4 separate regions of the Homo sapiens genome follow, and all the other regions are reported to be linked to region 1. Evidence: microRNA targets listed by miRTarBase, many of them from high-throughput screens and not tested one by one. Region 1 holds a microRNA gene; each other region holds the end of a gene's coding sequence.

Region 1 (3,000 bases):
CGGCCTCCCAAAGTGCTGGGATTACAAGTGTTTGCCAGCGCACCCAGCTGATTTTTTACTTTTTTGAGACTCAGTCTCACTCTGTTGCCCAGGCTGGAGTGCAGAGGCTTGATCTCAGCTCACTGAAAGCTCAGCCTCCCAGCCTCAAGCAATTCTCCTGCCTCATCCACCCGAGTAGCTGGGATTACAGGCATGCACCAAGACCACGTCTCACTAATTTTTTTATTTTTAGTACAGACGAGGTTTCACCATGTTGGCCAGTCTGGTCTCGAACAACTGACCTCAGGTGATCCTCCTGTCTCCGCCTCCCAAAGTGCTGGAATTACAGGCATGAGCCACCGTACCTGGACTAGTCCCATATTTAAAGTTAGGAAGAAAAAAAAAGATGCCCACACCTAAACAGCAAATCATTTGTTGTTCAAGTACATTTCAAATACATTGTTTATCTAAAATACATGTTTAACTGGGGTCAGGTATGAACCAAAGAACAGTCCTTACTTTCTTCTTGTCTGTGCATGGGGGGTTAATATTCACATGTAGTCCCATGTACCAAGGACTGGGGAGGGGCAGAGGCAGGAGGATCTAAGCCCACTTCAGCCTGGGCAGCATAGTGAGATCCCCATCTCATGCATTTATCTCCTGGTCACACACCGAAGATTTTAGCTTCATTTCCCCAATAAACACTGAAGCCCCATGCACTCCACCTCTGTGCTCTTGCTGAGCAGTGCACATCCCATCTGCAAGGGAAACTGAGGTCCCCTCAACTCCACCTGACCCCACGTGAGGTTCTATACCAGTGCCAGAAAAATTTCCATAAAGTAAGAGGTGTTGATGGCCACGCAGTGGCTCATGTTTGTATTCTCAGCACTTTGGGAGGCTGAGGCAAGCAGCTGACTTGAGGTCAGGGGTTTGAGACCAGCCTGGCCAACATGGTGAAAGCCCATCTTTACTTTAAAAAAAAAAAAAAAAATTCAAAAAGTAGCCGGGTGTAGTGGCAGGTGCGTGTAATTCCAGCTACTCAGGAGTCTGGGGCAGGAGAATCACTTGATCCTGGGTGGCATACATTGCAGTAAGCCGAGATCAAGCCACTGAACTACAGCCTGGGTGACGGTGAGACCCCATCTTAAAAATAAATAAAAAAAAAACCCAAATATTATCCAGGTGTGGGGATGGGCGCCTGTAAATCTCAGCTACTTGGGAAGCTGAAGCAGGAGAATTGCTTGAACCTGGGAGGCGGAGGTTGTAGTGAGCCAAGATGGGATGACTGCACTTCAGCCTCGGTGACAGAGAGAGACTCTGGCCCCCAAAAAGGACCATTTAAATCCAAGAGACCTAGGTGGGATGTGCCACCGCACTCCAGCATGGGCAACACAGACCCTGTTTTAGAATAACAAAGCAAAACCAAAACAGAACCCCGCCACCGTCCAAGTGTGATAAGCATGCTCTGCAAATGTATTACCGAGATCAGCATCAACTTCAACGCTGCTTTTCTCAAACCGTAACACTCCAAAGGGAAGCGATTTCTTTTCTTTCAGACAACAGAAAGCGCTTTCCTTTGTAGACTCACAGCTTGAGATCTTCTTGCTCCAGCACTCTGGGTTTCTTGTTGAAATTTTCCTTGACCAGGTTAAAATGGACAGAAAAATAAAGATGCATTCATTGTCCCTATTTGCATGTTTTCTGGAATCCAGAACATAACCCCCTAAAAGGACCATCTCCAGTTCCTTGCTTCAAAGGCTCAGCAGGTTAGCCTTGTTCAAGAGGCAGTCCTCCTGAGTATTATCTACAAAGAGAAAAAGCAATGCCTACTACACATACCTTTTTATTTTTTATTTTTTGAGATGAAGTCTCGCTCTGTCACCCAGGCTGGAGTGCAGTGGCGCGATCTCAGCTCACTGCAACCTCCGCTTCCTGGGTTCAAGCAATTCTCCTGCCTCAGCCTCCCAAGTAGCTGAGATTACTGGTGGAGCCACCACGCCCAGCTAATTTTTGTATTTTTAGTAGAGATGGGTTTCACCGTGTTGGTCAGGCTTGTCTCGAACTCCTGACCTCGTGATCCTCCCACCTCGGTCTCCCAAAGTGCTGGGATTACAGGCATGAGCCACCACGCCCAGCCCACATACCTTGTCTTTAACCAAGACAATTGGCCTGGAATTCATGAGAACAGCAATGGATGTTGAGCCAAGTGTTCACTTGAGTTCCAGTACAGGGGCACACAGTCCGGATGGGAGCATCCAAATGGAATCTAAAATGTTGAAGAATATACATTGTCACACACACAAACATTCTCCAGGATAGACCACAGGCTGGGATGTAAAAGCTCCTCCATAAAATTTGAGCAGAAACACACAAGAGTAGGGCACGCTTGCTCACACCATTAATCACAGCAGTTTTGGAGGCCCAGGCGGGAGGAGCAATTGAGCTCAAGGGTCCGAGACCAGCCTGGGCAACATGGTGAAACCTCATCTATACAAAAAATACAAAAGTTAGGCAGGTGTGGTAGTGCATGCCTGGAGACAGGTATTCAGGAGGCTGAGGTGGGAGGTGGAGGTTGCAGTGAGCCGAGATCGCACCACTGCCCTATAGCCTGGGTGACAGAGCCAGACCCTGTCTCAAAAATAAATCAATAAATCAATAATAAAAATGCAAAAGTTAGCTGGGCATGGTGGCACAGCCTGTAACCCCAGCTGCTCCGGAGGCTGAGGCAGGAGAATTGCTTGAACCCAGGAGGCAGAGATTGCAGTGAGCCAAGTTCCTGCCACTGCACTCCAGCCAGGGCCACAGAGTGAGACTCTGTCCCAAAAAGAGGGCCACTTGAACCCAAGAGATCTAAGTTGGAAGTGCCACCGCACTCCAGCCTGGGGAACAGACACCCTGTCTTAGATAAAAAACAAAACCCCACCATTATCCACGTCTGATGATCAGCACGCTCTGCAAATGTATTACCAAGATCAGCGTCAACTTCAACGTTGCTTTTCTCAAACCGTAACCCTCTGAAAG
Region 2 (3,189 bases), not on the chromosome of region 1:
ACCTCAAAATATTTTGAGGTTAGCTGGTAATTTTCAATAATTTACAAGCTTCCTTCCAAACTAATCTCATACTTTTGTATGTTTCATCTTGAAAATATCTTTTGGGAAATACCACTTTAGTGATTATTTAGCATTTAGCAGTTACACATAGGAAAATACACAGTTACATAGAAAAATACACATTTGAAGATAGAGGAAACCTTGAATGGAGGGGAAGTGTTGACAAATTTTAATTTTTAAAGGAGAAACTTTTTGACTATCTGGGTTAGAGGAAGATATGTGTACCGCCTTTAGGGCATTTTGTTATTTCCGCTGAATCATTAGTTATTAGGATAGATAAATTTTTCCAATTAGTTTCAGCAAGCGTTGTTGGAAACACTGTGCAGTCAAGGATTGTGCAGTGCTGGTTGTGTGACCACACCCTGAGTCAGTGGTGTGGGGAAGTAAAGTGTGAAGAAGCAGTAAGATTGGTTTTTAATTTTGCCCATGTTTTAAATTTTCCTGGTGTTTTCGGTAGCTGACTATAAAATGATAGAGACATTTGGGACAGGCACTTTAAACTGAACACCCCTTTTGGTTTTACCAAAGGTCTTCAGTAATTGTTCTTTTCTTTTTCCTCCTGGACTGCAGGTTCCTGAAGAGGGTTTCTGAGGAAATGGGCAAGATGTTGAAGGAGGTTACATGCAGCTGCTTTTGGGGGAGGGTATTAGAGTTGTCAGGCTCAAAGAGAGTGAGAGAAGCAAGTTGCATGAGTGCATGCAGACATGATTTTTTTTTTACTAACTTCATTAGCATTTCCATACATTGTTTTTAAAAATCATAATACCAACCCTTAAGTTCCTAGTTCACAGTTATTCCCACAAAAGAAAAAGCCAACAATAGTGTACCATTTTTCTATTTATTTTATTGCTGTCTAATCAATAAAGAATGCAGAGCTGTCAAAAAATGTGTCTTACATTAGCTGTCCCAACAGGATTGTCTTCCCTCCCAGCTCTGTTTTAATTGGCTTTTAGACCCACTATCTGTCAGATCCTTGCCATCTGTCAGTGTCTGCCTGCGCCACCTCCGTGCTTGCTTAACATCCTGTTGCATGTCTAGCGTGATTGAGCTAGATTTTTCAGGCATGTCTTTAGATTCCCTTGTTCTTGTCAAAGCCTTGTTTTGTTTTACATTTGTAGTGCAAATCACTTTGTCAAACATCTCCAGCACTAATGTTTCCATCTTAGTATTTGTGCACACTGCTATAACTTCCCCACTGCAAACATTCCAGTTTTGGCATTACGAAGAAGTAGCTGTGAACCTGAAGTATTTATGATAAGAAAAAGAAAACATCTCTGCTGTAGCCTACAGCCCAGTTGAAAGAACTCTTTGAAACGTGATACATCTTCAGCACCTCAGTCTGGGAAGAATCTAGTCAGCACTGAAATCCTGGCATAATAAACACAGAAGATATTCACCACCTCAAGACAAAGGACTATTGTCAAAAGTCAGCTGCTTCCATTCAAATGCTGCCTTAAACTTGAGTGCCTAAATCTGTTGATTGCCAACACTACCACTACAGTATCCCACAAAGGGCTTTATGTGTCAGCTCAGTGCGACCTGCTTTAACTCTGCAGCACCGCTGCAGCTGCCGATGTAGCCTCGGTAGGTGGCTATTAGAGCTCTACCATATACAGTGGTGCATCTTCAAATTTATGCATCAAACTAAAGACATGTCCAAGTCCATTTTAATTTCCTCAGTGGTTTTATGAGAAGTTTTATGGGCCTCCCCCAATTGTCTTTTTATTTTGGGTTATGACGATCATGTTTGATAATTACAATGATAGTCTCTTTCCACGTGATGCTTTTGTTTGAACCTGATAAAATTTAGTGAAACTTTGTAATGATCTATGTGCACTTTTACTTGTAAAATGGAATTTCTGTATGTTTATACTTGTAAATATGATTGTTGTTAGTGCTCCTGTTGCTCATGGTGTCCTGCCTCGCATTTGTGATTCTGTTAATGACATGTATCTTAACTAATTTCTTAGTGGTGTTGTAATAGGGAGATGGGGCAGGTGGGGGGTTATTTGTACCACTGAATCTTCATTAATTTGGTTCTTTACTGTTTTGAGGGGAGAAAGAACGTGAAATGGTTTGTGTATTATTGAATTTTAAGCAATATTTTAGAAGCTGTGTGACTGCTTTAATAACTTTTTCCCAGTGTTATTTGAATCATACTACCCGTTATACTAAAGCTGAATGACAATTGTGTGAAAGTTACTGCCTTCATAAGATCAAGTCACCACTGTTACACAGCTGACATATAGTGTATTACCTTTGCAGCTAGTAAACTATAAAGTTTAGATATTGAATCTCGTTACAGGGTTATTTATATAATGTGACATTATTCAGTACTGACAGACTACATGAAGTAGTTTTAAAATCTAGTGCTATTTTTATTTTAAAGGTTAGCAATGAGGAGGAAATGTGATCTGGCTGTGTTTGTCTTCTGTACAAAGCCTGAAGTGCTTATGGTTTTTTGGCTAACAGCCACAGAGGGCAAAGTTTAAGACTTTCTTGTAAGGACTAACTGTTCTTTTCAAGCTACTGTTTGTTTTTCTAAAAGCAGGATTTGCTTCCGTAGGAGGCAAGTTCCTTGATGTGGAATAGTGCAACCTGTATATGGGTTATTATAATAGGAAAGACATTTGTACTTGCACAGTTTAAATCATTCTTAAATTTTGAACATGTGAATTGTCCCAAAAAATCTTTAATTTTTTGGTAATTTTTACTCTTTTTGTGCACATGTTGATTTCTTAATGGTAAATCCTTCATTTAAAGATAGTGTTCTCTGTTGAGAATATTTACATGGAATAAAACAATCTTTTCATGGCCTGTTAAGGTGTTTAGTGTGTGATCTTTCATTGCTATGTGAATCAGAGATGTGATGATTTTGTTCTTGAATGTGCCAAGTCTCAGATAATACAGAGTAGATGACAAATTCCATAAGTGGGACAAGTTTTTTTTGTTTTTTGCAAAGCAGTTTTGGAAATTGTATTCTAATTTTGGTTTCTCTAAGCTTTCCTAAAGGAAAAAAAAAGTTTGCTGTCTCTTTAGAGTGAATTTAAATTGCATGCAATAATTTGGATTTATCTTTCTTCTCCAGTAGCTGTGTTGCATAGACTTTCCTTTTACACCATCTGTCCA
Region 3 (3,189 bases), not on the chromosome of region 1:
ACCTCCCTCCCGGATGAGGCGGCTGGCCGGGCGGGGGGCTGACCCCCCCCACCTCCCTCCCAGACGGGGTGGCTGCCGGGCGGAGACGCTCCTCACTTCCCAGATGGGGTGGCTGCCGGGCGGAGGGGCTCCTCACTTCTCAGACGGGGTGGTTGCCAGGCAGAGGGTCTCCTCACTTCTCAGACGGGGCGGCCGGGCAGAGACGCTCCTCACCTCCCAGACGGGGTCTCGGCCGGGCAGAGGCGCTCCCCACATCTCAGACGATAGGCGGCCGGGCAGAGAGGCTCCTCACTTCCTAGATGTGATGGCGGCTGGGAAGAGGCGCTCCTCACTTCCTAGATGGGATGGCGGCCGGGCAGAGACGCTCCTCACTTTCCAGACTGGGCAGCCAGGCAGAGGGGCTCCTCACATCCCAGACGATGGGCGGCCAGGCAGAGACACTCCTCACTTCCCAGACGGGGTGGCGGCCGGGCAGAGGCTGCAATCTCGGCACTTTGGGAGGCCAAGGCAGGCGGCTGGGAGGTGTAGGTTGTAGTGAGCCGAGATCACGCCACTGCACTCCAGCCTGGGCACCATTGAGCACTGAGTGAACGAGACTCCGTCTGCAATCCCGGCACCTCGGGAGGCCGAGGTTGGCGGATCACTCGCGGTTAGGGGCTGGAGACCGGCCCGGCCAACACAGCGAAACCCCGTCTCCACCAAAACCAGTCAGGCGTGGCGGCGCGTGCCTGCAATCGCAGGCATTCGGCAGACTGAGGCAGGAGAATCAGGCAGGGAGGCTGCAGTGAGCCGAGATGGCAGCAGTACAGTCCAGCTTCCGCTCCGCATGAGAGGGAGACCGTGGGGAGAGGGAGAGGGGGAGGGGGAGGGGGAGGGGGAGAGGGAGACACTCATTTTTACAGACCCTGTGGGGAAGTCAACTCTTTGCACAGCTGATGTTATGAATTTCTGTTCTTCAGAAGGTTGCTCCTCCTACGAGTCTGCACTTGACCCAAGGATCTGGAACCTAGCTGGCATCTTCATCTCAAAGCCACATGTAAGTCTCACAAACACAGTATACTTACTGCAAATGAGATTCCGTATGCAGGCATATTCCTTCAATTCAAATTCTTGCTGAAATCCCTCCTAAACTTACTTACCTTTAGCTTCCGTTTGCTCCTGTGTCACCAAGCTATGGCTCAAATGCACAGAGCTCTAACTGCAGGGTGGGTGATAGGGCTTATGCAAACGCCCTAAAGCCCCGTCTCCCGTCATGAGGTCTCCTGATGAAGGGCACCAAGCACTTCCGAACCAACGCTGCTTTGTGAGGCTTCAGTCTGGGGACTACATTCTCTCATTAGAATTTCCACACTCATTTAGGGCATCTTTATTTGTAATATAATGGGGATGGAGCATTGCCTCCCAAGCCCAGTGACTGTGCCTTTAGCAAACATTTCCAGATGGCAGTGGCAATCAGTGACTGAGAGACAAATTCACAGCCTGCACCCAAATGACAAAAGTTACGTTTAATTTACAATGTAATAAAGGTTACAGGTAAAAAGCTACACATAAAGCATGAAAAGGCCTATTACACAAATGTACAAATCTCTGTACAAAGCTTGTATCAATGTTTCCTAACTTTGTCTCCTATGTTTGTTAGCCAGGTCTAGTCTTGGAGCTCTGAATAACAAGAGCTCTCAATTGAGGGGGGAAAGAGCCTCCAAACTGACATCTAAAAATTCCTCTTAGAGACACCAGTTACTTCCAAACAAATCTTTTCCTTTTTAATTTGAATTACCCCAACTGGTCATATCCTTTGAAAACTGCCTTCATAATACACTTAAAAGTAATGCCTTAGAGTAGAGGACAGTACTCTGGAATTAAATAAGAAACTTCAGCAGGAGGAGTGCTCAGGTTTGACAAGAAAAACAGGTAAATTTCAAACAATACTGTAAGTTAAAACTATAAACCTGTGTCTATGGCACCAGTCACAGATGAAGGAAAATCGAAATGTTTTCATTCCAACAGGAAGGACAAAAGAGAAAAGCCTAGCTACTGGACCTCAAAACCACTGACCCAAGGAAACATTTTTTAGTTTAAACCTCAGCTTAACTGCAGAATTCTAAGCCTTCTTTTTGATCAAACTGAGATCTATGGCAACCCTTCTGCTACCCGGGACTTGGAAGGATAGTGAATATAAATTAGGCTCTGGACCCCCAAGGCTGGTGATGCTACTGTAACCTCTACAGCTCTGGATTCAACCTGAGGGCCTGGGATATGTGACTTTACATAAAAATGATCCTAGAAAGTGGGAGAAAGAAAGGAGGTAGTGGAAGGCCTAGGAAAGAGCCAGGGCAGTCTATTGAAAAGGATATAAGAAGCCTTTCTCTACAATGCAAGTGTTGTGAAGACAGGTCTTTATGGGCTATTTCAACCCCACCCCCAATTGTCATATTACATGGTTAGGATGCCAGGAGACATTCTGAAAGACGATACCGCACACATGGAAAGTTTTTCTCCCTAGTTCATTAGCTCCCCATCACCCTTCCACCCCATTCCCACCCAATCCCACCCTTCTCCATGACCAAAAATATCAAATCAGCAAGGAAGGTGTGGGCTTCTTGCCTGGCCAAGCCTCTTTTGCATATTTCTTCTTCTTGGGTTCATTTACAGCTTCAGGGTTATAGACTGCAGGGTTTGGTGCAGGGTTCATGTTCACTGCTGACGGCACAACAGGAGTCAAGTCCACATCAGGGGCAAGGTTTGGGTATGGCATGGGCAAGCCACCGATGAGTGCTGTCCCATGGATGCCATGTGGCTGGGAGCCTGCTTCACTGTGTGTGGGGGGCAGGCCCCCGTAGAGTCCTCCGCTGAAGGCAAAGTTCTGCATGCGCCTGCTCCCTGATTCCTCCAGGCCCAGGGAGCCAGGGCCCTCCACACGCTTCTTCTACAGTTCACGATGAGGAGAGGGGAGAGATTGGAGAGAGAAGACAAGAGGTGAGGCCCAAGAGTGGTTAGCTTTTTCTATTCCAGCCTTAAAAAAATGGCTTTTGGGAAAGATTCCTAACTTCTAGCCTGTTCTCCTTTCCAGACAACCTATTTCATGATGTTGAAATCTTACGGTTTGAAGAGACCTTTCCAGTCATCTACGATGGTTCCCAAACACTGCTCCATAACAAAGTTTTCACCATCCTACATCAGCCAAGGATG
Region 4 (3,189 bases), not on the chromosome of region 1:
TTAATCCAGATACTGCTGTCAGCTTTTCATAGTATTGGTTTCTGTAATGTCCTAATAGAGCAAAGGAAGGACACTCCTGAAGTTAAAAAGTTTCTACGGCAGGATTTGCAAAGACCAGAAGAAAAAGGTTACATAGCAAAAATTTTCTTCTGGTTATCTTTGGGTGTTTTTTTAAATTTTATTTTATCTGTATATTCTAATTTTCTCACAACAAATATATATTGCTTTTGCATTTTACAAATATACAGAAAATGTAATCTGGAAAAAAGTTACTTTTTCCAGTTCTAAGTTAAATAAGTGAAAGTCACTTTACTGCTTACAAAGAAATCTTTAAATTTGAACTTGGTATCCACCATCTGCAACAGATCATTCAATCTAGGGATGTTGCAGAACAACAGGGACTCCTCAAATCTCACTTTCCTTAGGAATATATTTTTCTAGCTATATTTGACTATGTCCTAATCATGTTCTATTTATTTGTATATCAGAAATAACAGTCATATCATGAAGAGCTACCTTATCTTAGGCAAGTTGCTTTTCTCCTTCCTTTCCAACTTGAAAAACACACTTCTCAGATTGCTACAAAAGGCCAACCTCTCTTTTTTTTCTTTTTTGAGACAGGGTCTCGCTTTCTCACCCAGGCTGGAGCACAGTGGTGCAATCTTGGCTCACTGTAGCCTCAGCCTCCTGGCTAAGTGATCCTCCTGCCTTAGCCTCCCAACTAGCTGGGACCACAGGTGTGTACCACCATGCCTATTTTTTTTTTTTTTAATTTTTAGAAGAGATGAGGTCTTGCTATGTTGTCCAGGCTGGTCTAAAACTCCTGACCTCAAGCAATCCTCCTGCCTTGGCCTCCCAAAGTATTGGGATTATAGGTGTGAGTCACCACACCTGGCCAACTCTCTTCCTTCTGTATGCACATTTCACCTTTAACATAACGTGTACTATCATCATTATTTTTTTGAGATAGGGTCTCACTGTGTTGCTCAGGCTGGAGTGGAATGGCACGATCTTGGCTCACTGCAACTTCCACTTCCCAGGCTCAGGCAATTCTCCTGCCCCAGCCTCCCAAGTAGCTGCGACTATAGGTGTGCCCCACTGTACTTGGCTAATTTTTTTTTTTTTTTTTTTTGTAGAGACGGTGTTTTGCCATGTTGCCCAGGCTGGTCTTGGACTCCTGAGCTCAGGTGATCTGCCTGTCTTAGCCTCCCAAAGTGCTGGGATTATAGGCATGAGCCACCACGCCTGGTCTGTATGTGCTTTTTAAAAAGCCTATCCCATACTGAATTGTGGGAACCTATGAAGTGTCTCTTAATGTCAATTAAAAGTAACAGTGGCTGCAGATATTGATTTCTGAAAGTACATGAGAATTTGTCTCTAACTATGGTTGAAACAACAAAACCAAATCTGAATCAGGTAGAGGTCTACCAGACACAAACTCTGAAATTAAACACTAATAGGACTGTTACTGGGCAGGGGGGACTCCTTTGAGTAAAAAGGTAACATACAGTTTTCCTAGGTGGCTGGTGCTCTCCCCCAACTTTCATACTGGAACAAGAGTTAGGCTCAGGTTTACATGATCCTCTACTATTCTTTTGTGAAGAATGACAACTGAGTCAGTTGGTTGAGCTTGAAGTGTTCCAGTCCTAAGGGATTCACTCTCACTTAATGTCATATATTGGTAAGGTGCCTACATGAGGTCAGTGTTTGTGGCTACATATAAAGACCAATGATGAAATGAGGAATTATTTTTTTTTCTTTTAATAAGGGATGGGGTCTTGTTATGTTGCCCATGCTGGACTCAAACTCCCAGACTCAAATTCCTGGGCTTAAGCTATTCTCCTGCATCAGCCTCCCAAATAGCTGGGACTACAGGTGCATGCCACCACACCCAGCTAGAGGCAATGATTCTTAAAGTCTCCGCTGGCTATCTAGGACTCTTATTAAATATCCTGTTACTTTAAAAAGGCCATCCAAATATATTTTCTTGAAAGAAACATTTATTTATGATCTTTATTGGTGAAATAATTTCAAACAAATCCAGAACAGGTTCTCACACTTTGAGCCTTTAGTGCAAAAACATTATGCCATGCGGGAAATAAAATGCTTATCCAGTGGAGCGCTCCCCTGATGCATTGAAATATTAGGATACTCAAGCAGAAGACGACTTATGTGACAGAAATCTGCTCATAAATCTGCTTGAAAAAGGGCATGATAAACCTCATATTAAGGTTTCTCACAACATAAATATGCTTAAGCAACTTAATTCCAACTTAATTTCAAAACACCCCAGGAATCAACTATCCCTTTAAATAAAAAAAATAATCAATTTATATTCTTCTTAAAAGAACTCCAACAATTTAAAATAAGTTCCAATTCCATATATATATATATATATATATATATATATATATATATATATATATATACACACACACGCACACACACACATTTATAACTTAGGTGCTCTTTTGCGCTATATACTTTAATTCATGCAAAAGTGATAGAGGACTGGACTTGAGGCTCTACAGAGGCCTTTCTGAGAAAGCTGTGTAGCTCCTTACTCTGGCGAAGAACAAGGGGGTGTACATCTTGTCAATCTCAAAAGCACTGACTGCAGTCTCACCAGTTGATCTGTAAAAAAAAAGCACAAAATTACTAGTATGAGGAAATTTCAATTCATTTAAAATCCTTGTGTGTTTGGGGAAGGTTATTCTATGCTTTAGCCTTTTTTATTTTTAATTCATCTTAGGAAATTCTATATAATATAGGCATATTGTAGAAAACTCGAAAAATTTAGAAATGTATACAGAAACATCACCACAATTCCAACACTCAGAGCCATATGAAGGATATTTTCTAGTGTTTCTTGAGATCAAACTTAGTAATTCTTTTTATTTCATTTAATTATTTGTATTTTCCCACATCATTATTTTTCAGAAACCATTTTTAGTGGCAGGATGATATTTCACTGTCTGCTTGTACCACAGTTTACTTAATTGGAGATTTAGGTTGTGTCTACTATTTCTCAATTAAAAATTATGTGATTTTGATGTCCTTCAGAGATTCCTAAGATAGAATTTTTAAGTCAGAAGCTATAGACATTAGGTTCTTCTTAAAATGTTTCAGAAATAACTATATTCCTAGAATATAATTTGATTATTTAATAATTGCATGATCAACAGCATA

Evidence for each region. The annotated mature microRNA hsa-miR-1283 reads UCUACAAAGGAAAGCGCUUUCU and lies in region 1 at 1,541-1,562, opposite strand. An mRNA with a match to its seed (bases 2 to 7 or 8) in the 3' UTR can be bound and repressed. Matches are read on the target gene's strand: a 7mer-m8 pairs with bases 2 to 8, a 7mer-A1 pairs with bases 2 to 7 and ends in A, and an 8mer does both.
Region 2: the mRNA of FNBP1L is a reported target of hsa-miR-1283. Seed matches in the 3' UTR shown: 7mer-m8 at 1,172-1,178.
Region 3: the mRNA of PPP1R8 is a reported target of hsa-miR-1283. Seed matches in the 3' UTR shown: 7mer-A1 at 2,367-2,373.
Region 4: the mRNA of FBXO9 is a reported target of hsa-miR-1283. Seed matches in the 3' UTR shown: 7mer-m8 at 580-586.

The regions. Positions count from the first base shown.
Region 1 is chr19:53,756,807-53,759,806 of GRCh38, reverse strand. MIR1283-2 (microRNA 1283-2) reads right to left here and starts at 1,575; the gene lies at 1,489-1,575. MIR516A1 (microRNA 516a-1) reads right to left here; the gene lies at 2,977-3,000. It overlaps LOC124904766 (a long non-coding RNA gene), which reads right to left. Exons shown (of 2, transcript XR_007067335.1): 1 at 2,124-3,000.
Region 2 is chr1:93,551,779-93,554,967 of GRCh38, forward strand. It overlaps FNBP1L (formin binding protein 1 like), which reads left to right. Exons shown (of 17, transcript NM_001164473.3): 17 at 631-2,883. The coding sequence ends at 638. Among named protein-coding and RNA genes, the nearest start is that of TRC-GCA7-1, 37 kb to the left of the region's middle. RefSeq lists a silencer at 894-1,188 and an enhancer at 1,236-1,764.
Region 3 is chr1:27,849,830-27,853,018 of GRCh38, reverse strand. PPP1R8 (protein phosphatase 1 regulatory subunit 8) reads right to left here. Exons shown (of 7, transcript NM_014110.5): 7 at 1,343-2,926. The coding sequence ends at 2,573. Among named protein-coding and RNA genes, the nearest start is that of PPP1R8, 21 kb to the right of the region's middle.
Region 4 is chr6:53,097,167-53,100,355 of GRCh38, reverse strand. It overlaps FBXO9 (F-box protein 9), which reads right to left. Exons shown (of 13, transcript NM_033480.3): 13 at 1-2,634. The coding sequence ends at 2,526. Among named protein-coding and RNA genes, the nearest start is that of FBXO9, 33 kb to the right of the region's middle.